Regions from separate parts of the Homo sapiens genome. Here regions 2, 3 and 4 are each linked to region 1. The links come from fine-mapping of genetic effects on plasma protein levels. A gene starts in region 1. Each other region holds a variant in brackets. All regions are shown on one strand. Distances are between the middles of the regions.

Region 1 (5,144 bases):
GTGGAGAGAAGGTCTTGGGAAATGCAGCAGAAAAATGTTGACTGCAGCAGACAACGATGGAGCTGGGGGTTGGGATATAGATTGATAGCACCCATAAAATATCTCCAGGCTGAAGCAGGTACCCTAGGAGTTTGAACATCCACCTACATTCAGGGATGGGATAAGGTGGAGGATTCAGGCTCAAATGAGCAGCCACAGAGCAGGTTCCCCAGACTCCCTACACACCGTTTCGACCTTTTCCAGAGTCCATTAGTACCCACCGGAAATGGAAATGTTCTAATTGTGGTCCTCTGTGCCATCATCAAGACCCTCAACTCCCTTCATTACCTCTTAAATTGACTTTAGGACCTACTGCCAGAAGGATGTTCTTAACCAAGTCAGAGAGAGAGAGAGAACATTTTCTCAAGAACCATGCTGGAACAGCCACCATGTTCCCACTTTTCCAGCCTCCACCTCTCCCCCATGGCTGAGGGTGAGGTACTCTGTGACTCTCAATGAGCTCTAATTCAGTCTTGGACATCTCCAGCCCCAAGTCGTCTGGGTTCCAAATCTCCGTCAATCGCTTATCTCTTCCCACATGAGTTCTCCCCTGACTCAAGAAAACACTATAGAACTGTCCCCTGTCCTGGGACCCTCTTCCCTTCTTTTCCACTTGGCTTCACGTGGAAAGTCCTGCACCCATCCCAGAAGACACCTCAAGTGCAACTCAAGAATGTGTCCTGTCAGGAGAACGGAAGCATCTCCTGGGATGTGCAGAAGCCACACTGGGTGCACCCACCAGCAGCAGCAGCGGCGGCGGCGGCGGCGGCGGCGGCGGCGGCGGCGGCAGCAGCAGCAATATTCATTAGTCATTCCTGGAGGAAGCCCCCCCAGCTCTCAACCCTAGGAGAATTTCCCCGCCACTCTGGGAGGCTTCCATCCAGGCTGGGATGACTTTGGATTCTTGAGTTGCTTTCTGCAGAAGCGGGACTAACCAGGGCTCCCAACTACTGTACTGCAAAGAAGCGCGCTGCATTGCTGGGCATGCCCCCAAGCCCGGCCTGGCTGCCCCATCAAAGCCTCCAAGTGCCCCCACGGGGTCGAGGAGGACTCAGGGTTCCCCTGGAATGCCTGAAGCCGGCTTGCCTCAGGCAGCCTGAAGGGAAGACCACACCTCGTCCAGCATAAGGCGGCTAGCAGCTACGCCGCGCGCGGGGCTGGCTCCCGGAGCTCTCTGCCACCCAGCGCTGTGCCCGGGAACTCGGCTTCCCAGGGGAGGAAGAGCCAGCCCGCGGGGCTCTTCCCCAGCCTGGAAGCGTAGGCACTCGGCCGAGGCCAGTGGCTTCCCAGGCCCGGGTCTCAGCCTGGCTGACTGGGAGACTCTCCCGATAGCCCGGCACATCCCTCCTCACCCGCTCCGCCCCCTCCAGGCCCCAGAGGCCCCCTCCCCTGACAGCTGACCTCCAGTGCGCCCCCAACACTTTCTCTGCCAGCTGCTGGCTGTCGCCCCCACACATCAGCTCCCACCTCTCCGCCACCTCCAACCCGGCCGCCGCCTCACCCCCAGCCCGCGGGGGAGGCTCCGCGCGCCAATCGAGTCCAGCGCCTCCCAGCAAGTTAGGAGCGAAGCCGCCGCCTTCGCGATCCCAGTCTTCCCGGGTTCCCGGGCGGCGTCCCCGCCACCCTTGCGGGCGGATCCGGGGGGGCGCGCAGAGCTGGAGAAACTTTCTCCGCCTTAGGGTGGGGGGCACCGGTGCAGATACTCACGCCGGGGTCAGCGCTCGGAGCCATCCTCCCGCTCTCGGCCCCGCCGCCTAGGGGCGTGGGAAGCGGGCGCTCGCTGCCGCCTCTGCCGCCGGCGCCGCCGCCTGCTTGCTCCCAGCCCCGGTCCCGGGCTGGCCTCGAGCCTCCCGCCCCGACGCCGCGCGCTCGCTTTATACAACTCCACTCGAGCGCGCCCGGTCTTATGTAAAGGCTGGCGGAGGCCCGCAGCCAATGGCGCGGCAGCTGGAGCCGGGGGCCCGGGGTGGGGGGCGCCGGCGCGGCCAATCGCGGCCCCGAGAGCCCGGAGAGCCGGGCGTGGGGAGGGAGCGCCTCCCCGCGCTGATTTAGGAGCCGGGATTGCGGTGGCAGCAGCCGGCAGCCAGGCTGGCCCGGCGCGGCGCGGCGGCCACTGGGGTGGGCGGCGGCGAAGGCGGCGGCGAGGGCGGGCGCCCCCCGCGCCCCGCCACTGCGTCGCGTAACCTTCAGGCGGCAGCGAGGCCTGGCGAGGAGGGGAGAGGGCGCCTGGCTGGGCGCTGGGGGCCCCAGGCCGGAGGGAAGCGAGGGTCCCTCGGGAGGCAGCGCAGGGAAGGAACGCGAAGGGGGAGGGGAGGGCGGCGAGCCCCAGGACCCCGCGGCCACCCCTGCGCGCAGGACCGAGGGTGGAGGCGGGAGCGGCTGCACTGCCTTCCCATTTCCCCCCAGGATAGCGATCTGGCGTCGCCGGGCCGGGCCAAAGCGGCCGAGCGAGCCGCGCTGATGGCGAGATTTCGACTACGGAGCTAGAGCCGAGCCGATCTTTATCCAGCCTGGGGACGTGTCCGAGCACCTCCCGGGGACTGCTCAGTATGGAGAGCAGGGCTCCGCGACGGCCCCCGCAGGCGGGGAGCGGGCGAGCGCAGCTCGGAGATCAGGCGCGCAGAGGCCCAGGCGGCTGCGGGCAGCGCCGCTTCTACCCCACCCCGTCCCCACCAGCAGTGCCCCCACCCCATCCCACCTAGTCCCTACCCCAGCAGTGGCCGAGTCGGGCCTGGCCCACCCGCTCCTGCCGCCTGCGTCCTACTAGCCTCCCTCACCGCTTTGATCACAGGTACTGCCCGCCTCTCCTCGCCCCCAACCCGCTGCCTTGGTGGTGGTGGGGGGATGGTTTCTGCCTCTCTGGACCAGGGGAATGGGGGTGCTAAGCGCCAGAAAAACACACTTGATCAGCAATGCTCAAAATACCCCTGTTCAGGCAGGAAACTGGCCTTGGTGGGTCACACTCTGAAGGCAAATCCTTTATTTTACGCCTAGAATAGAGCCTGGCACATAGTAGGCGCTCAGTGTTTATTGAATGAATTCTGAGCTTCCATGAGTGAGGTCTTTGGGTTTCTGAAAGCCAGGTAAAGGGGCCACAGAAGAGAAAGACTTGGGAATCCACCATCGGAGAGGGAAGGAGCTAGGACTGTTTTCCCATCCGTTGACGCTTTTGTGACCATCACCCACTAGTCTGGCTTCTGGGCCCTTGACTCTTAGAATGATTTGAATGTGTTCTTTTATAGAGGGCCACACATCCAGCCTCTGGCCCCTGTTATCCACAGATTTTGAGCAGAACTACCAGGACCTAGTCTGGGCTCTGTTTTCAGGTCTCTGTGATCTTCCTCTGAAAAGAAATAGCTAGGCACAGACAAACTTTCTGGCTTTTTGAGCCCCCATCAAGCCTGTAAGGTTGTGGGCCCCTTTGAAAATCTGGCAAAAATTACTGAATCATTTTTCTAGAAAAATATACAAACACACACATTTACACACACACACACACACACACACACACACACACACACACACACCTTGAGTATACTTTCAGGATCATTAGGAACCCTGAGTCTCTTGGGGCTCGGTCCAATGTCAACCTGTTTCTTCAGGGGTCTAGGACAGTAGTTTATAATCACCCTCCTTTTGGGGATCACAGACCCTTTAGAACCTTTCAAGAATCTCATAAATGTTATGGATCTGTTGCTTATAAAAATGCTCACTCACATACACACATGTTGACATGCAACTTTAGGAGGGTTCGTGGATCATTAAAACTTAATCTAGGGCCCTGATTAAGAACCTTCATCTATCGGCAAATAGACTCTGCCCCCAAGGCCATATCTGATCCCCAGCTCTCTGCATAAGGAGTCCAGTTGGCTCTGCACCCTGCTGGAACATGCCACCACCTTGTTCTGAGGGCATCTGAGTCATCTGGCCAAGGCTCTGGCACCTGAGAGACTGTCTCCACACTTTCTCTGCATCTTGGTCCCCGCCACCCTCTTAATGTGGAAATAAGTTGCAGGTTGTCATATTATGTCTGATCTATGAGCATTCCTTAGCCAGAAACTCCAACTCAGGGAGACAGCAAGTGACTGGTAATTAACCAGTTTCACTCAATCCCAAACATCTGAGCACACCTTTCTTGGTTTTTGTTCTCACCTCTCTCTTCTCCGGTGAAGCTGTGCACAGCAGCCCCAGCTGTAGCGCCTCACCTCACCCAGACCCGACAGATTTAGTAACCAGCACGGTAATTATCAGCATTAGCCAACCAGATGTGAATAGGTGCTCTGTGCAAAATAACTCTGTAATAATCTCACACTTTCCTGCAGCTAGCCAGGTAAGGTTACAACAGACCAAAGGTGCTAGGGAAGGACAGAAAAATGCAGGAAATGATGGAGATGTTCCAGCCAGGAAGTGCTCCAGGGAATACAATCTGGCTTCAGCACTTGAACTTGTGAGGGTTTAGCCCAGTGGGCCAGGCAGTCCTGGTTGGAAAATTTCTCATTTCTCTGATGTCCTCGATGTCCATTTGCTCAGTTCATGTCAGTGTCTGCTCAGAGCTCCAGCCCTTCCCCACCCCCAATCCCGTGAGAGACCTCTTGTCCTCCCACATTGCCCAAACACAGCTTTCTTGAGGCACATGCACACGGTTATAGACTGAATTGTGCCTCTCCGGACCAAATTCACATAGTGAAGCCCTAACCCTTAGTGTGACTGCATTTGGAGATAAGGCCTTTAAAGGGGCAATTAAGGCAAAATGAGATCATAAGGGTGGACCCTAATTCAATAGGACTAGTGTCCTCGTAAGAAGAGAGAGAGATACCAGAGATCTCCCATTTCTCTCTGTGCATCCTCAGGAGAAAGCCTGCCTGAGTAACAGGAGGAGGCCATCTGCAAGCCAGGAGCAGGGCCTCTGCAGAAACCAGACCTGCCAGCACCTTGATCTGGGACTTCCAGGCTCCAGAACTGTGAGAACATTAACTTCTGTGGTTAAGCTCCACGTCTGTGGTATTGGCTATGGCAGTCTGAGCTGACTAATACACACATTTTCAGCACACCCTTACCCCATGCATCTTGTTCAGGCTCCAGTCCTTTGACCCCAGTGAAGTTGT
Region 2 (5,144 bases), 170 kb before region 1:
GGACAGCTTCTCAGGTGTCCAAACACACAGGGTGGTGGTGTTGTGGGTGACCTCTGAGCTAGAAGGAAATGCCCCTTCCTGGAGAGATGCCCCTGAGGTCTCACTGAAGCAGTCTCATGCAGTCCCATCCAAACATGGAGAGCCCCTATGAATCTAGTCCTGAGCTCTCTCACAACCAGCAAGATGGGACGTGTCAAAGTCACTAGAATACTCGTTTGATCTTCTGCAGAAAACATCTAGGATATCATGGGAATTTCCTGTTTCCAAGGGAGGACAAGCAGCCATTCTTATTCCCATTTTATAGATGAGGAAACTGAAGCCTAGATGGTTAAGCTGCTAGTTCAATGTCACTCAGCCAGTTAGTTGATGGCCAAGTCTGGACTGGCCCCCCCAGTCTCCTGACTCCCAGGCCAGTGCTCTTTCGGCTCTGCCTGCAGCCTCTTTGGTCTTGCCTGTGTGCCAATGTCATCTTCCCCATCTACATGGCCCCACCATTGTCACTTCCAGCCCTACCTGTGACTGTGCACACTCCAGGGAGGCTAACCGCAGCCTGGCTCTGTCCCTTTCTCCAGATCGAGCGGCAGCTCTTTGAAGAGACTGTGAAGACCCTCAACGGATTTTACGCAGAGGCTGAGAAGATTGGGGGCAGCTCCTACCTCGAGGGCTGCCTGGCCTGCGCCACGGCCTACTTCATCTTCCTCTGCATGGAGACCCACTATGAGAAGGTGGCCCCTCCCGCCCCACCGTGCATCCCTTCCCTCAGGGCTGCCCTGTGGCATGCTCATCCTTGTCTGGCTCCTCTTTTTGCAGGTTCTCAAGAAGATTTCCCGCTACATCCAGGAGCAGAATGAGAAGATCTTTGCACCTCGAGGCCTCCTACTTACAGACCCTGTGGAGCGTGGGATGAGGGTTGTATCCTTCTGGGCTATTCTGTGTTGAGGGCACAGGACTGCTAACCAGTAGAGATCCTGGTGAGGCTGCCAGGAAACGAGGCCACCTTAGGGGCCTCCACTCAGGTTTTCCCAGGATTCCCCACATCAGTGGTCCTCAGCCCTCCTCCACCACCCTAAGTTATTGGAGGCTTTGTGAGTTTCAGGATTTGCACTTGTTGGGCTGCATGTAATCAGTGCTTAGAATATGCCAGCTATCATGTGAAGTGCTTTGAAAATACGAATTCATGTACTTCTCATAACAATCTTACCAGGTGGGTTGCTCTGATTATTCCCAGCAACCTGCTTAGAGTCGTGCAGCTGGTGAATGTGGGAGCCAGGAATTGCACCCAGGCTCACCCTTAACTACAAAGACCCCTCCAGGAATATGCAAATCACCACATTCATTTACAGGTCCACAGTCTCATGCAATCCTCATGGAATCTCCCGTGGCAGGTCGCATTGTCCTCCTTTCACAGATGAGAGACATGAGGTCTAGAATGATGTGACTACCCCAAGGTCTCAGTCCTGGTGAGAGGCTGGACGGGGGTGGGGCGTGGTTCTGCTGACTTTATCTCCACTTGGAATAGTGTGATCTGGGTGTGCACAAATCCCTCCCCCCGGGCAGCAGCAACACGAGTAGAATTGCTAAAAAATAAGGTTTACTGGAAAACTGAGGAGAAACAGAGTCAAAAAACCACAAACACCCAGAATCACGTGTTGACAAAGCCCAGTGAGAGGCACTTGTTTTTATTGAGCCTTTACTATGTGCCAGGTTTTGTGCCAAGTGTCTTACATACATTTAATCTAATCTCCACACTAACCCCAAGATTCTATTCTTAATCCCCATTTTGCAGATGCGATAATGGATGGCTAACAAGTTAAGTGACTGGTGTAAGGTCACATAGCTTTGTGAGTTCCTGAATCAGGATTTGAACTCAGGACACTAAAGTCCTCATACTTCCTGTGCAGTGACACCACCTCCCTGGGCACATCTGTGTCCTAAGATATGGTCATTAGACCCACTGGAATGTAAGCGCCATCAGGGCAGCGACCCTGTCTGCTGTGATCACAGCTATGTGCCCAGCACAGGGCCTGGCCTTACGAGTCTCCCTAATTGTTAGCTAAGTAATGTGCATGGATGGGCTTGGGGAGGGTCTAGCTCCCAGGCCTTTACATCCCTACTGTCTAGGCAGCAGCACAAGCCCACTTTCCCACTCCCCTGCTGGACTCCATCCGCTGGTTCATGTCCCACCCCTGCTCAGCAGCTGGGCT[C/T]GCAGCTCTCCTTAACCACCGACCCCAGATTGAGATCTCCATCTACGAGGACCGGTGCAGCAGTGGCAGCTCCAGCAGCGGCAGCAGCAGCGGCAGTGGCAGCAGCAGCGGTGGGGGTGGTGGGGCGGGGGCCCGGTGACTGGCCGAGAGTCCCTGTAGGGAGGTGTATGGCCGGAGTGAGGGCCTTGCAGACCTGCGGCGGCTGCGCTACCAGAGCACCCGCTTCTGAGTCATTCTTTGGGCTCACCCTGCTGCCCGGGGTGGGAGGGAGGGTGACGGGCCTCATATTTCCTGTGGGCCATCAACCTATGCCCCCTGTCCCTCACCCCCGTCTGGATCAGTCCATTTCCTGACCTGGGGGCTTTTCCTTCCCGATGGGGCTGGTCTGGGCCACACAGAGACAGATCTTCCTAGGAAGGCTGGGGTGGGGAGAACACAACCTAGGCGGCCCCTCTCTTCCACAGCCCCTCTCCCAACCCTGCGAGGGGGGCCGAGGCCTGCCACATAGAGGACTCCCACACTGCATGACCCCTCATCCCAAACCCATATCCACCAGGACTCTTTCCCTTGGGCCCTGCGTCCCGTGGCTGTCTCCCAGTATCTGTTCCTTCTCATGCCCCTGCAGGGCCCCGGCCTGTCTATGATCCTGCCTCCACCAAATTCAAGGTGTGGGGAGACGGGTGCCGTGGTTGGGAGCTGTTCAGCGCACTCCTGACCTCTTCTAGACCTATGGCTTTCCTGTCCTGCATTCAGAGCTAGAGGCCAGCTCGGCCTTGCGAGAAGCATCCAACTTTGAGACTTTGCAGGCTGCCAGGTGCTGGTTGGGGGGCACAGAGCCTGGGGCTCTGGGAGGTAATATGGGGGTCTGGGAAACTCCGTGAAGAGACATAGCCATGCGGGGCCTGAATCTCCTGAACTACAGCCAGTTTCCTGAGATTAGAACCTGTGTGTATGCACATGTGAATGTATGTGTGAGTGCACATGTGTGTAAGTGCAGTGTGCGTAAATGTGTGAGTCTGCGTGTGTTAGCATGCCTGTATGTGAGCGCGTGTGTGAGCGCATGTGTGTGCACCAGTGCACAAGTGTATGAATGTGGACACATTTATAAGCACACCTGTGTGTGTCTGAGTACATGTGCACACACGTGTGCACAAATGTGCATTTATATGAGTGTGAGTGCATGCATGTGCATGAACATGTGTGCACAAGCATGTGTGTATGAGTGTTCATGTGTATGAGTGTGTGTGTATGCAGGTGAGTGCATGTGTGTGTGAGTGTGTTTGTGTGTTCCCCTTGGCTGCCAGGCCAACGACTGCTTCTCTGCATCCTGCTGTCTTCGCTACCTGAGGGTCTGTGACTTCTTCCCTGTGTGGGTCCAGCCTGACCCCCTGTAAGTAAATGTCCAAAAGCCCCTTGCCCCTCCCCTAGGGCTACCAGGGAACATACTCTACTGCATATGTTCTAGTGGAAGAGAAGCCGGGGTTCTAGGAAAGAAGAGCCAAACTTTGGTGGCCTTTGGTGCCCCCTCTCAGCTCCCCATGACAAGACAACGGGGCTGCAGACACTGTGTGTTCAGCCTGCCCAGGGGCTGGGGCTCTTTAAGGCTTTGTAGGTGAGGTTTCCATGGACCTTCAAAGGTGCCAGCAGCCTGCAGGGGAAAGGCAAACTCCCTCCTTGCAAGGAAAGGAGATGTCCAGCCAATGATGCCCGGCTTCTGAGGCCCAGAGGAGCAGGTGGGATGGGAGCAGCCCCTGGGGCTGGTGTCCCGAAGATGAAATGAAGGGGGCTGCCTATCTCAGTTGGCGGGAGGTGTTAGAAGTGGATGTGCAAGACCAGCCACTGGAGGTAGCTCTCTGGAGTCAAAGAGAGGCCTGCTTTTCTACCAGACATGGGAGCAGCATGTAGGATACAAGGGCCTACCCAGAGACCAGAGAGAGTCAGCCTAGTCCTTGCAGCCTCAGGAAGTCCTCGGCCCAAGTGAGTCCTGGTCCAAGGATCCCCCTGGAGAGCCGCAGTTCAGTGGGCTCCACCGCAGCCCCTGGCCACGGCCTATGCCCTCCCTGGGCCCCTGTGGGGCTGGGCATTGTGTCTGACCTGTGCATCTCCCATGGGAGGGCTGGGCACAGGCAGTGCTATGGCCTTTTTTTTTTTTTTCTTTTTCCAATAAAAGAACTTGCCCAGCGTGAAGCTCTGTGATGCTTTCTCTGCCCCGTGACGATGGAGGGTCAGTTCTATGCTCCAGGACCACATGAGGGGATACTCAGCTGCCTGAACTGGACCTGACATGGGGAGCAGGATGAACTCTGTCTTCTTGGAGCTTGCAGTCTACTGAAGAGGCAGACACCTCAGCATCTCTAATCTGGAATCTTTGGGGCACTTGTAGCCTTGGGTGGGGGAACAGGTTGGACTGAAAGCGAGGCCAAAAGTAATCAATTAATGATATCAATAAATCCTCATTTCTTGAGCTCTTCCCCTGGGTTGGGTCCTGTTGGGAGCTGGATCACACAGGTCACTCAGTACTGAAGATGAGAAAGTAGCTGGATGATCACTTCTCGGCCTTTTGGCCAAGATCAAATATGGAGAAAGTAGCTGGATGTTGGAACCTAGCAGAGTTGTGTCTTGAATTTTATAATTTATTGAGCACCTACTATGTGCCAGATACTTTGCTGAAACCATATGTTAGAGCTGGCAGGGGATTTAAAGATCACTTGAATCCTGTCACAGAGGTCCAGAGAGGGTGGGTGACTTGCCCTAGGCCACACAGCTGGTTGATGATAACAGGGCCCAAGCTTGGAACCCAGGTCTCCTGACTCAGTGCCCACTCTGTTACCACAGGGATGGCACCCAGATGGGAAGCTGCCTGAGGCTGCAGGGAGGCTGGGATCACAAACTCAGGCCTGTTCCCAGAGAGGGGCTCATCAGACTGTGGGGACAACGGCT
Region 3 (5,144 bases), 110 kb before region 1:
GGAAGGAAGATGTTTCTGCAGCTTTGGGGCCAATGCAGTGGTTCCCACACTTTAACCTATATCAGAATCACCTGGGGGGCTTGTTAAAACACAGATTTTTTTTTTAAACATCTGGCCCCATCCCCTGAGTTTCTGACCAACAGGTCTGGCGTGAGCCATGAGAATCTGCATTTCTAACGAGTTCCCAGATGATGCTGACACTGCTGGTCTGGGAACCACACTTTTGAGAACCACTGGTCCAGGGCCATTAGCCCGGGTCCTAGTCTAGGGCCTGCCCCTAACTGCTCCTCGTCCTCGGGCAAATCCCTGGCTGCCTCCAGGCTGCATCTCCTCAGATGTTAAATGGAGATCATACTCCCCCTGCTTCCTTGCAGGGTTCTTGAGAAGATGAAATGAGACAATGTATGTGAAAAGTCTTTGAAAAGATAAAAATGCTATATAAACAATGAGGCATAATCATTATTGATCAGAGGACGTTCTTGTAAGAGATCAGCTTTGAGCTGGATCCAGAAAGGTGGGTGAGTGATGAGGCAACTGGTGAGAAAGGACAAGTGGATGTTCCGGGTTTGGAGCAGAGAATGAGTGAGGGGTGGAAGGGGAGAGAGAGAGAACAGCACATGGCAGAGTGGGGGCGGGGCTGAGGCATTTATGGAGCAAAAGGTCTCATACTTCAGCATGCATTGGAGTCACCTGCAGGGCTAACTGAACCTCAGATTGCTGGCCCCACCCCTGGAGTTTCTGATTCAGTCTGTCTGGAGGGTGGAGTGGGGCGGGGCCTGAGAATGTGCATTTCTAGCAATGCTGCTGCTGCTGGCCCAGAGGCTACACTGAGATCCACTGACCAGGTAGCTAGATTAAAAGGCCCTGCCCCAGGTAGGGGCTATGGGGCTATGGAAGGATGACTAGGGTGAGTGCTATAATAAAGTTAGAAACTTGTGTCTGCTATCATTTCACCCAGGGGCAGGGAGGCGGAAGGTAAAAAGGCATCTTCATTTTCAGGCAGGCAAGGTTCAATTCCTGGCTTTGCCTGTTGCCTCATGTGTGATCAAGGTCAAGTTGCCTAATTTCTCAAAACCTGAGTTTCCATATCTGTCAAATCGGATAGTGACAGCATCTACCTCATTGGTGTCTTATGAGGATTCAGTAGGACGAGGCAGCTAAAGCATGCAGCATAAGGCTCGGCATGTCCCTAGTGTAAGAGGTGTTGGCTGTTACTGTTGTCCTTGCTCTCGTGTTTTCCTGCACCATGCTGCATTCCTCTCTGTCAACTTCCAGGCTGCCCTTGGCCTCTCTCCATTCCTCCCCTGGCAGTCCTCAGGCCCCAGGGATGGCCAAGGTGGTGGCTGGACTCAGAAAGCAACCCTCCTCTGCTGGCAGACTGACCATAGGGCTTCTTTCTAGTTCTCTGAGGCCTGGGAGACTGAAGTCAGGGGCTAAGCAGGGTGTGAGCAAGCTTCTGGACGCCTGCCTCCTGTGCTGCAGTGCCAGGTCATCTTTTTTTTTTTTTTTCATTTCACATAGTGCCTTTGTCCTGTGGTTAAATGCGTGGGTGTGCAGATGACCTTGTTAGGACAGAGTGCATCTCTTTGTGATTAACCTGCATGCCTCTCCCCCCAGTTCTCTGAGAAGTTGCCCACGTTAGCTGAGTGTCAAAAGCCTTGGTCCTGAACGGGTGAGATGGGAAACCGGGAGGAGGCTGGGAAGAGGCCCCTAACCGTGACCAGGTCTGGCACCCCCCAGCTCCACCCCACACTCTGGGGCTGTTCACAGAGCTGCCTTCCCATCTACTCCCACCAGGCAGGAGTCCAGGTGGCACAGATTCAGGTCAGGCTAAATGTGGCTTCACAGCCCAGCTTGGCTTCTCTTCCCAGCGCCAGCTTGTTAAGAAATAAATATTTATACCTGGCACCTGCCTTCTCCCAAGGCCTGGAGGCCCCTGCTGTAAAGATTCACACTGAATCCCCAATCCCCTCGGTGCCATCTCAATCCCAAAGTGAGCCAAACCTCTTGCCCCTGCCCCCAGAATGGGGGCCATAGACACTCCTGTGGCAGCCGGGCAGCAGCTGGGCCCCTGATTTAGTGATGACTGTTTACAAAGCCAAGGAGGTGGGTGGCAGGGGAGCAGGTGACAGGAGGGATAAATCACCTTTGCAGCAAGCTGCTGGCTCTGGCGAGGCCTGCTGGGACCTAAGCCTGGGTGGGCGGCTGCCCCCTCACCGGGCAGATGGCTGCAGTGGCTCATGCCCCTTCCCACTCCGTCTTTCCTCCCCATCCAGTTTGGGTGGGGCACCTCTGTGTAGGGTGCACTTGCAGAGCATGAAAACGTTGGAGGAGCTATTGATGAACTAAAGTACTCGTATATTGAGGCAACCCTCCCTTCACCCATCTAGGAACCCCTCCATTGTGCCTTCATTTATTCCGTAAATATTTATGAAGGGCCCCACGGCTCAGTGCCTGGCACACAGGAGGCACTTAATAAATGTTAGTTGAGTGAATGAATACAGGCAGGATTTAGAGCTAGAAGAGGTGGGTTCATGTCCTAGCCACACCACTCATCTGCTTTGGGCTCCCATGCAAGTCACTGCTCCAAGCTAGGCTTCCATCCCCACAAGTGTCCCGAGGACACAATGATCCCTTGGCTGGCTTCCTCACTGGTTTCTGGGAGGGCTGCATGGGAGACAGGATGTGAAAGGTACATAGGAATGCATTCTGCAAGTCTTAGTTGTTGGTATTTAGCACCCAATCTATCCAAGACACCGCGGGAGACGCCACTCTGTCAGGGGACGTCTACACAGTGGCTCCTCTCCTGGCTCTCATGTGGCTTCTCCCCAGGACCCCATGTGCCCCTGCACTCACCTTTCTGTCCACACAGGCCACAGAGCGTCCGGCAAAGAGGCTGGCCACACCACGGGCCACGTTGACCTCATCGCTCAGGATGTCTTCCCACCGGTTATTGC[G/A]GAACTTGAACAACTTGTCGGTGTACGTGGCCACCCCTGGAGAGAGGAGGAAAGGGAGGGCTGGTGGACAGTGGATCAGGGTCTTGGTTCTGATCTCTGGGTATGTCTCATGGCACCTTTCACAAGGTGGTTGGGACCAGAGGAGGTTGGGTCATCTGCGGCAAGGAAGACCTCAAGCAGGTGAGACTCCTCTGTGTTTGGGGAGCACTCACATGTTTCCAGTTGAGGGAAGAGACTCTGAGCCTCATGAAGATGGCTGGCCCAGGCCTCAGGAACTAGGGAGGAAGTGCCACTGCTGCAGTGTGCCCAAGATGACCCTCAGCAGCTGGATTTCATGCCCTGCCCCGTGCTCCTGCAACAGCATCAAGGAGCTCCTGGGACTGCAATACGGCAACATCCAAACTCAACCCAGGATGGCTCTTTCTCCAGGCGCTGTCCCTACATTCTCTACTGGATCGCAGGACCTACCTGATTTGGGTCTCAGAAGAAATGGTTCTGGTTCATGGGTAGGTCTCAGTCCACCCTGAGGAAGGGGCTGGAAGTTGAGCTCTGATGGGGTGAGAAATGAGGGGTTGTTCTGCCTGGGGTGTGATGAGTTTGGGCAGCCCTGGGAGGCCCCTGGTCCCAGGACTGGGGAGCCCCAGAAGGCAGTGGTTTTCACCTCTTTTGGATTACTGGCCCCTTTGAGAATTGGAGGGAGGTGAAGGACCTTCAGCTCAGGGAGTTGCAGGTCTGCACACCACACAACATGCCATACATCATTTCAGGTCTGTGGCCTTCTGGAGCTCGTTCGTGACTAAGAAGCCTTGTTCTGGAGAAGAGGGAATAACTGCTGGTTGCTGAGGTCTCAAGCCCATTCAAGTGACCACTTGAAAGGCAGAGGTCTCTCCTCCGCCATCATCCTTAGTTAATTTCTTGTTAATGCAAGACCCCGAATGTTCGTAGTTTAGGGGGGTCCTCGTTCTACCCCCTGGGCTGGACAGGAAACACAGGGAGAGGAGCAGCTGAAGGAATTGGGGAAGGTGAGGTTGAGGAAGAGTGGACTTGGGGACAGAACCCTGAACTTGACTGTCTGGGCCAGGGAAGAGGCAGCAGGCTTAGACTGAGGAGAGACAGCATGGCACAGGGGCCCAGGGGCCAAGAGCTCAGGGTGATGGAAATGATCTGGAGCCCCAGTGTTGGTTCTGCTTGGATTCTACTTCTAGGCTCCAGACTCGAGGCATGCTGCCCAGCATCTCTGAGCCTCGGTTTTCCTACTTGTGAGTGGGGATGACAGTAGTTACAGTCAAGTTTACTGTGAGGAATAAATGAGATGATGCACATTAAAGGTTTGGGATGGTCCCCCCACCAAAGTGGTAGCTATTTTTCGACAGGAATGATTTTTCTCATGTTATAGATGAACTACTTTCCAAGGTTCTTTAGAGACATCAGCCCTGCACTGCAGGGGTTTGGTGAAAACCAGTGATTCTGTGAGTGGGTGTGTGTGAGGGTGGGAAGTATGTGAGTGTGAGCATGAGCGAGAGTGAGCATTGTGAGAGTGAATGTGTGTGTGGATGTGTGAATGAGTGAGAGTATGCAGGAGTAAGAGCCAGCATGAGTGAGAGTAAGAGTGTGTGAGTGGGCTGGGCACAGTGGCTCATGCCAGTAATCCCAGTACTGTGGGAGGCCAAGGCGGGCAGATCACTTGAGCCCAGGAGTTCTAGACCAGCCAGGCAACATAGCAAGACCCCATCTTTACAAACCCTCCCCCTCAAAAATTAGCCAGGTGTGGTGGCACATGCCTGTAGTCCCAGCTACTCAGGAGGCTGAAGCAGGAGGCTCACCTGAGCCCAGGAGGTAGAGGCTGCAGTGAGCTGTGATTGTGCCACTGCACTCCAGCCTGGGTGACAGAACAATACCCTGTCTCAAAAAAAGAAAAGGGTATGAGTATGTGAAAGCAAGTGCGTGAGAAAAAGTGTAAGCATGAGAATGAGTGGTAGGTGTGAGAGTGAGACAATGGCTGAGAATGAGTGTGTGTCAGCATGAGAGTGGGTGTGTGAGTGAGGGTGTGTGGTGAGTACACGAGAGTAAGAGTGTGTCAGAGAATGAGAGTGGACAAGAACGAGTGAGTGTGAGAGAGTGGGCATGAGTGAGTGAGAATGTGGGCATCAGTGAGAGTGAGTGTGGGAAGGAGTCAGAGTGAGTGTT
Region 4 (5,144 bases), 150 kb before region 1:
ACACATATTACTTTTACTTACCATTGTTACCTTCATTTACCATTGTACGCCTAGAGCCTAACCAAATATTTGGCACATTGTAGGTGCTCAATCAGTATCTGTTGAACTCATGAATGAATCAAATGGAAGCCTTATCCTGGAGTCTGAGTGCTGCAGTGGTGCTCTTATCAGCTGTGGGAACTTAGAACTCCTCTTTGCAACTCACTGGACCCCACTCACCCAACAGGATCACATGACACAGATATACCCTGTTATATAAAACTCATTGTGAAGGCATTCATGGTTGTCACTTATAAGGCATCATCTGAAGTCTGCTGTCACCCTGAACCCCCTGATGTCCTTGGCAGGCCATCTCTGTAGTTGTCTTGTCCCTTATTTCTTGTGCTGTTGTGTATGGACAGTCAATGGGCTCTGTTATCTTGTCATTTACCACTGCATTTGGAACCATTCCTCCATGGGTTTTGGGTTTTACTTATCTCACTATCTTAGATCCACTTTGTTCATTTTTTAAAAGGCAGCAGCTTCCAGAAGGACTAGGGAATAGTCTGAACAGTGACAGAGCTGCCTGTTACCCTCTGACAAGATGGTGTGGTGGGAAAGGGCTCCAGCCCTGGCCTGGGGAGCAGTGGGCTCCATGACCTTGGGCACAGTGACCTTGAACACTTCAGCTCTCTGAGCCTCATCTCTGGAGCCCTTTCAGATCTTTAGTTCTATGTCAATACACAGGAATGGGCTTTCTAGAAGTGGAATGATTTTTAAGTTGGTGTCTGCTTTTCAGGGAAATTGTAGCTGTTTTAATTTAAAAACTTTTCATTTATGCTTCTGTTCTAAGTGTAAAAACAGCACTAGCTACAAGGAATTCATATTTTGTGATTTATTAGGAGTATTACCATGATATCAGAAAATGGCAGGGGCTTTTTTTTTGTTGAATATGTTTTTAAAAGGGTTGCTGCATTCTTAAGTGTAATTTTATTATATCCTGGGATGACTTTTTTTCCCCATGAAGAATAGATCTATGTTTTATAACAAGCCTTCACTACTGAGGCTGGTCGTGAGCATATTCTGTGGCGTTACATCATTTCCAAAGAGTGTTCTGGCTACAGGAGCATTCTATTTTCCAAGGAGATTGCAGAGACCAAGTAGCAAGGTTCTTTCTAGAAATCAGAGTAACCTGAGATGAGCCAGGCCTATGTCCAGCCAGACATTGAGGAGTCTTAGAAAGGAAAGGCCCTTAGGGATATACCAGCCCAACTCTCTTGTCATCTACATTAGGGAAACTGAGGCACAGCATGGAGAAGTGACTTCCTGCAGGTAAAAGGCCTAGAGTACACACTCCATTTCTGCCCCTCACTCATCACACATCCTTCACTTGGCCCAAACCCTGGTCCCCCAAATGTGAACATTGTTGTACGCAACCAAACCACTGCTGGTGCCTGAGGGTGACACCTGCTTTGTGTTATGATCTGCTTTCAAAGCATCTCATGGTGGAAGGGCTGCTCCTAATTCAGCATTCCAATCAGTTCTACTTGCCCCAGACCCTTTTTATCATCAGTTTGGCACTAATATCTAGTAGAGAGTTTATTGGCATAATTTCTTCAGAAAAGAGGCTGGAAGGCTTAGCAAGTTCAAATGATAACATTTTTATCAAGAGTCCCAAAGGACCACCCTTTTCCCTCCCATCACCACCACCAACACCAATAAGGCTTTCTCTAGCACAGGAAGTCAGGGGCAAAAAGCAGAAACAGCACAGGCCAAACCAGCAGGCACATGGTACATTATCGGATCAACCGGCAAGCAACCACCTGGGAGCCATCTTTGTTAAGGGCAAAATAATGAGCTCACGAGACACTGGAGGATACAAGACTATCTTGATTCTTCTGAAGGAGTGAGGGAGACTGGATGGGGTATTGGAGACTTTCCTTTCTGTTTTCTCAGAAAACATGCAAAGAAAGTCTTCACAAACAACTAAGGTTGTGTCAGTATCGCCCAACCTTCCCTTTTCAAAGATGGCCACCCCTGTTGTCCATTCAGAGGGAGCACACAGCAGAACCTACTGGGCGTGGAGAGAGAGACAAGCAGCAGGAGAGAGATTTAGTTTTCCACAAAGGCTGTTAGTTTTGTTTTGTTTTTTCCTTTATTGATGGGATTTAAAGTGCATATAACTGAAGGCAAAGTCCAAGGCCTAGAGAAAGATATGAGGCCCGAGAGAGAGGCTCAGAGATTCTAGAGGCGGCTGAAGAATACCCACCTAAAAAGGCCACTTGAGCTGCAAAAACGATGCGGCGGGGAGACAGAAAATGGGAAAAAGAGAAAGGGGGTGGGGACGGGGTGGGGGTGGAGGAAGGAGTTTGGGAAGAAGAAATTACCAGTTTAGAAATTCAGCCAAAGATGAGTAGTAGGAGTTAGTTTATATCCCAGCTATGAAAATACGGGCTGACCTCAAGGTAGGAACAGTTGTTTTAGGAAAAGTAAGAAGAATGATAGCCTCAGGCCAGGACACAGCATCCCCTGGCCCTTCAGGTGATGGTAGAAGTGATGGGGCTTCTCCAAGCCTCTGTCATGGTCTTCCCTGGAGACCCAATATGGGTCAAAGGAGACTCTATCCAGCCAGGAGAAGGAAGGGGCTGGGGACCTTGATCTGGGGCCTACCCAGAGCTCCCCAGTGGAAAGCAACATCCTTTTGCTACTGGCCTATGGCTGGGGCCCCACTCACCCACGCAGGCTGTGCCATCCTCGTTGGGCTCGTAGCCCCGACTGCACTTCTTGTTGGTCCGGCACCTGTAGCTTCCATAGGTGTTGACACATACGGGCTTGTCTCGAGGGCACA[C/T]GAATGGGAACTGGATGCATTCATTGGTGTCTGCAAGGCGAGGGGAACCACTCACCATGAAGGTGTGGGGCAGCAAGTACCAGCCCAGGCTCTGCCTGCCTATACACTGTCTGGCTTTGGGAATGTGCCTTCCTCGCAGAGCCTCAGTTTCCCTGCTTCAGTTCCCTTGGCTGGCTCCTCCTGTACTTGGTCTCTACATGCTGGGGGCAGGGGGTGGGCACTCAGGCTTGGTCCTGGGTCCTCTCTTCTGTCTACTACAATCGTTCTAGGTGATCTCTTCATGCATGGATGATTCCGAAAGTTCTATCTCCAGTCACAACCTCTCCCCGTGGCTCCAGACTCACGAATACAATAACCCATGACCTACTTGACAGCTCCACTTGGATGTCTAAGATGCACCTCATGCTTAATATGTCCAAAATAGAACTCCAGATTCTGCCCTGCCCTGCCCATATTCTGGCCCTCTGTTCTGTCTTCTCTAGCTCAATCAACACCCCCATCATCAATCAGCTGCTCAAGGGGAAATCAGAGCGACCCCTGATTTCTCCGTCTTTCTTGCCCCCTGTGCAATTTCACAGCAGAGCCTGTCCACTCTGCCCCGCAGTCCACCAGTCCACCTCTCTCTGTCACCTCTTTCTCATTCCTCTGCCACCACCCAATTTCCTGCCATCGTGACCTCTTGCCTGGATTTCTGCAGCTGCCTCCTCACAGAATACCTGGCTTCCCCTCTTCCCTCCAATCCACTCTGCAATTCAGCAGCTGGAGGGAGCCTTTAAAAATGTGAATCACATCATGTCACTCCCCAGTTTAGCTTCTAAGGCTCCTAAGAGCAAAATTCAGACTCCCTACAGGGGCCTCATGGACTCTCCATCATCTCCAGGCCATACTGGCATCCCTCCTGCTCCTTCAACACACAAAGCCTTTGTCCTGTCTCCCGCTTTTCACTCCTGCCCTTCCCTCAACTCTTTCTGGGCCTAGATCCTTCTCATCCTTCAGGTCTCAGCTCAGAGTCTTCCCCCCGAGGCCCTCCCTGACCACTCTCTCTGGAACAGTCTCCAGGGAGCACCTTGCTCAGAGGGTTCTGAAATCATCTTGTCCAGGTGTGTGGTCATGCGTTCAGGGTCTGTCTCCCTCCACTAGAATGGATGCCCCTCTTGTGGAGGCGCGGGGGTGGCACTTGGCCTACATCCCCAGCTCCCAGCATGACACTTGCTGTGTACGAGGCACATAACTGCCTGTTGGGCGATGAAAAGGAAGAGGAGGCTGATCTCAAAGGGTCCTTCCTGCAGGCAGAGAAGACTCTGGAATTTCTATGCACCTGCACTATGTGTTTGGAGTGGGGCTGGGTGGGCATGTGGAGAGTGTAGGGGAGTCATTTCCTCCTCCAGCCACCCTTGGCACCACTGCTCCTCCACCTCCCCACCTGTGCTCCTTTGTTCAGACAGTGCCCCCCACCAGAACCATGTCTCCCCTCTCTGTGACTGCCGAACTGCTCCTCATTCCTCAGGGCCCAGCTTGGACCTCACTTTCTCTAGGGCACCTTCTAGGACCCTCCCTAGGCTGGTTTAGGGCCCCTGCTTTGTCATCTCCAAGCCCCTGCCCTCCCCCATCTGGGCCCTGATCACACTGTGTGGTCGACAGCTGTTTACTTTTGTGGCTCTCCATTGGTTTTCAGCTCCTGAGAGTGGTATCTGTCTTGTTTACTCCTGTATCTCAGTAGCAAAGGGTTAATGAGCAGCTGCAGAGTAGACTTGGGAAGAATGCTGGATGAGGGTTCAAGGAAGGAGGGATCCTTGGCCTGACCCCTCCTTGCTGGTCACTGGGATGGAAAGTGTTGGGGGTGAAGGTCTCCTGGACACTGAACTTCTAGGCTGCCCCTTCCCATTCCAGGCTCTTGGGGACTTTCAGAAGGTTCTTGGACCGTCAAGGAGCTGCCATCCTGGTAGTGCTGCAGCTACCTGCCTGCCCCAGTACTGCACCAGGCTGCAGTCTCCGTTCCACACTGTGACCACACTCCATACACTATTTTGCCCCAATGCCCTTGGCAATGCACACCCTTGCCTGCCAGCCCCCTTGCTTGCTGCTCCACATGGACTTGCTGGCCATGGCATGTGGCTATTCCCCCTGTGCCAGGTTGGTGGTGTGTCTCCTTCCCATCTGCAGTTTCTCGGTACTCATGGCAGGAAAACACTGCCAGTTTCCAGAACCGCAGTGATTCAGCCTGTGGGTCACTAATATCACTCCCACCCTGGTGAGTCATGTGGTGGTTGTCTTGGCATCTGGAGTCCCAGGACAAACAACACCCTCCCCTGTCCTC

Alleles and levels. Positions count from the first base shown, and alleles are read on the strand shown. Strength reflects both the effect of a copy and how common the allele is.
For the plasma level of the protein whose gene starts at base 1,919 in region 1, C is the high allele of the variant in region 2 and T is the other (strong association).
In carriers of allele A in region 3, the plasma level of the protein whose gene starts at base 1,919 in region 1 tends to be lower than with G alone (moderate association).
In carriers of allele T in region 4, the plasma level of the protein whose gene starts at base 1,919 in region 1 tends to be lower than with C alone (moderate association).

The links. PIP is the chance, under the fine-mapping model, that this variant and not a neighbour inherited with it causes the effect. Protein levels are from antibody-based Olink assays in UK Biobank. Linkage for the fine-mapping came from a reference panel and not from the study's own genotypes, which makes the PIPs less certain.
Region 2: its variant is fine-mapped to the plasma level of the CRTAC1 protein (UK Biobank, PIP above 0.99). The variant lies in the coding sequence of CRTAC1. If it changes the protein, the assay may bind it differently, which can mimic a change of level.
Region 3: its variant is fine-mapped to the plasma level of the CRTAC1 protein (UK Biobank, PIP above 0.99). The variant lies in the coding sequence of CRTAC1. If it changes the protein, the assay may bind it differently, which can mimic a change of level.
Region 4: its variant is fine-mapped to the plasma level of the CRTAC1 protein (UK Biobank, PIP above 0.99). The variant lies in the coding sequence of CRTAC1. If it changes the protein, the assay may bind it differently, which can mimic a change of level.

Annotation. Positions count from the first base shown.
Region 1 is chr10:98,028,703-98,033,846 of GRCh38, forward strand. It overlaps CRTAC1 (cartilage acidic protein 1), which reads right to left and starts at 1,919. Exons shown (of 15, transcript NM_018058.7): 1 at 1,747-1,919. The coding sequence starts at 1,770.
Region 2 is chr10:97,863,358-97,868,501 of GRCh38, forward strand. GOLGA7B (golgin A7 family member B) reads left to right here. Exons shown (of 5, transcript NM_001010917.3): 3 at 573-725; 4 at 811-912; 5 at 2,233-5,144. The coding sequence ends at 2,343. It overlaps CRTAC1 (cartilage acidic protein 1), which reads right to left. Exons shown (of 15, transcript NM_018058.7): 15 at 1,643-2,357. The coding sequence ends at 2,191. Among named protein-coding and RNA genes, the nearest start is that of MIR3085, 10 kb to the right of the region's middle. The variant C/T (reference allele first, on the strand shown) is at 2,205.
Region 3 is chr10:97,920,408-97,925,551 of GRCh38, forward strand. CRTAC1 (cartilage acidic protein 1) reads right to left here. Exons shown (of 15, transcript NM_018058.7): 4 at 2,857-2,993. Among named protein-coding and RNA genes, the nearest start is that of MIR3085, 47 kb to the left of the region's middle. The variant G/A (reference allele first, on the strand shown) is at 2,958.
Region 4 is chr10:97,877,536-97,882,679 of GRCh38, forward strand. CRTAC1 (cartilage acidic protein 1) reads right to left here. Exons shown (of 15, transcript NM_018058.7): 14 at 2,714-2,857. Among named protein-coding and RNA genes, the nearest start is that of MIR3085, 4.2 kb to the left of the region's middle. RefSeq lists an enhancer at 4,469-5,144 and a silencer at 4,957-5,144. The variant C/T (reference allele first, on the strand shown) is at 2,828.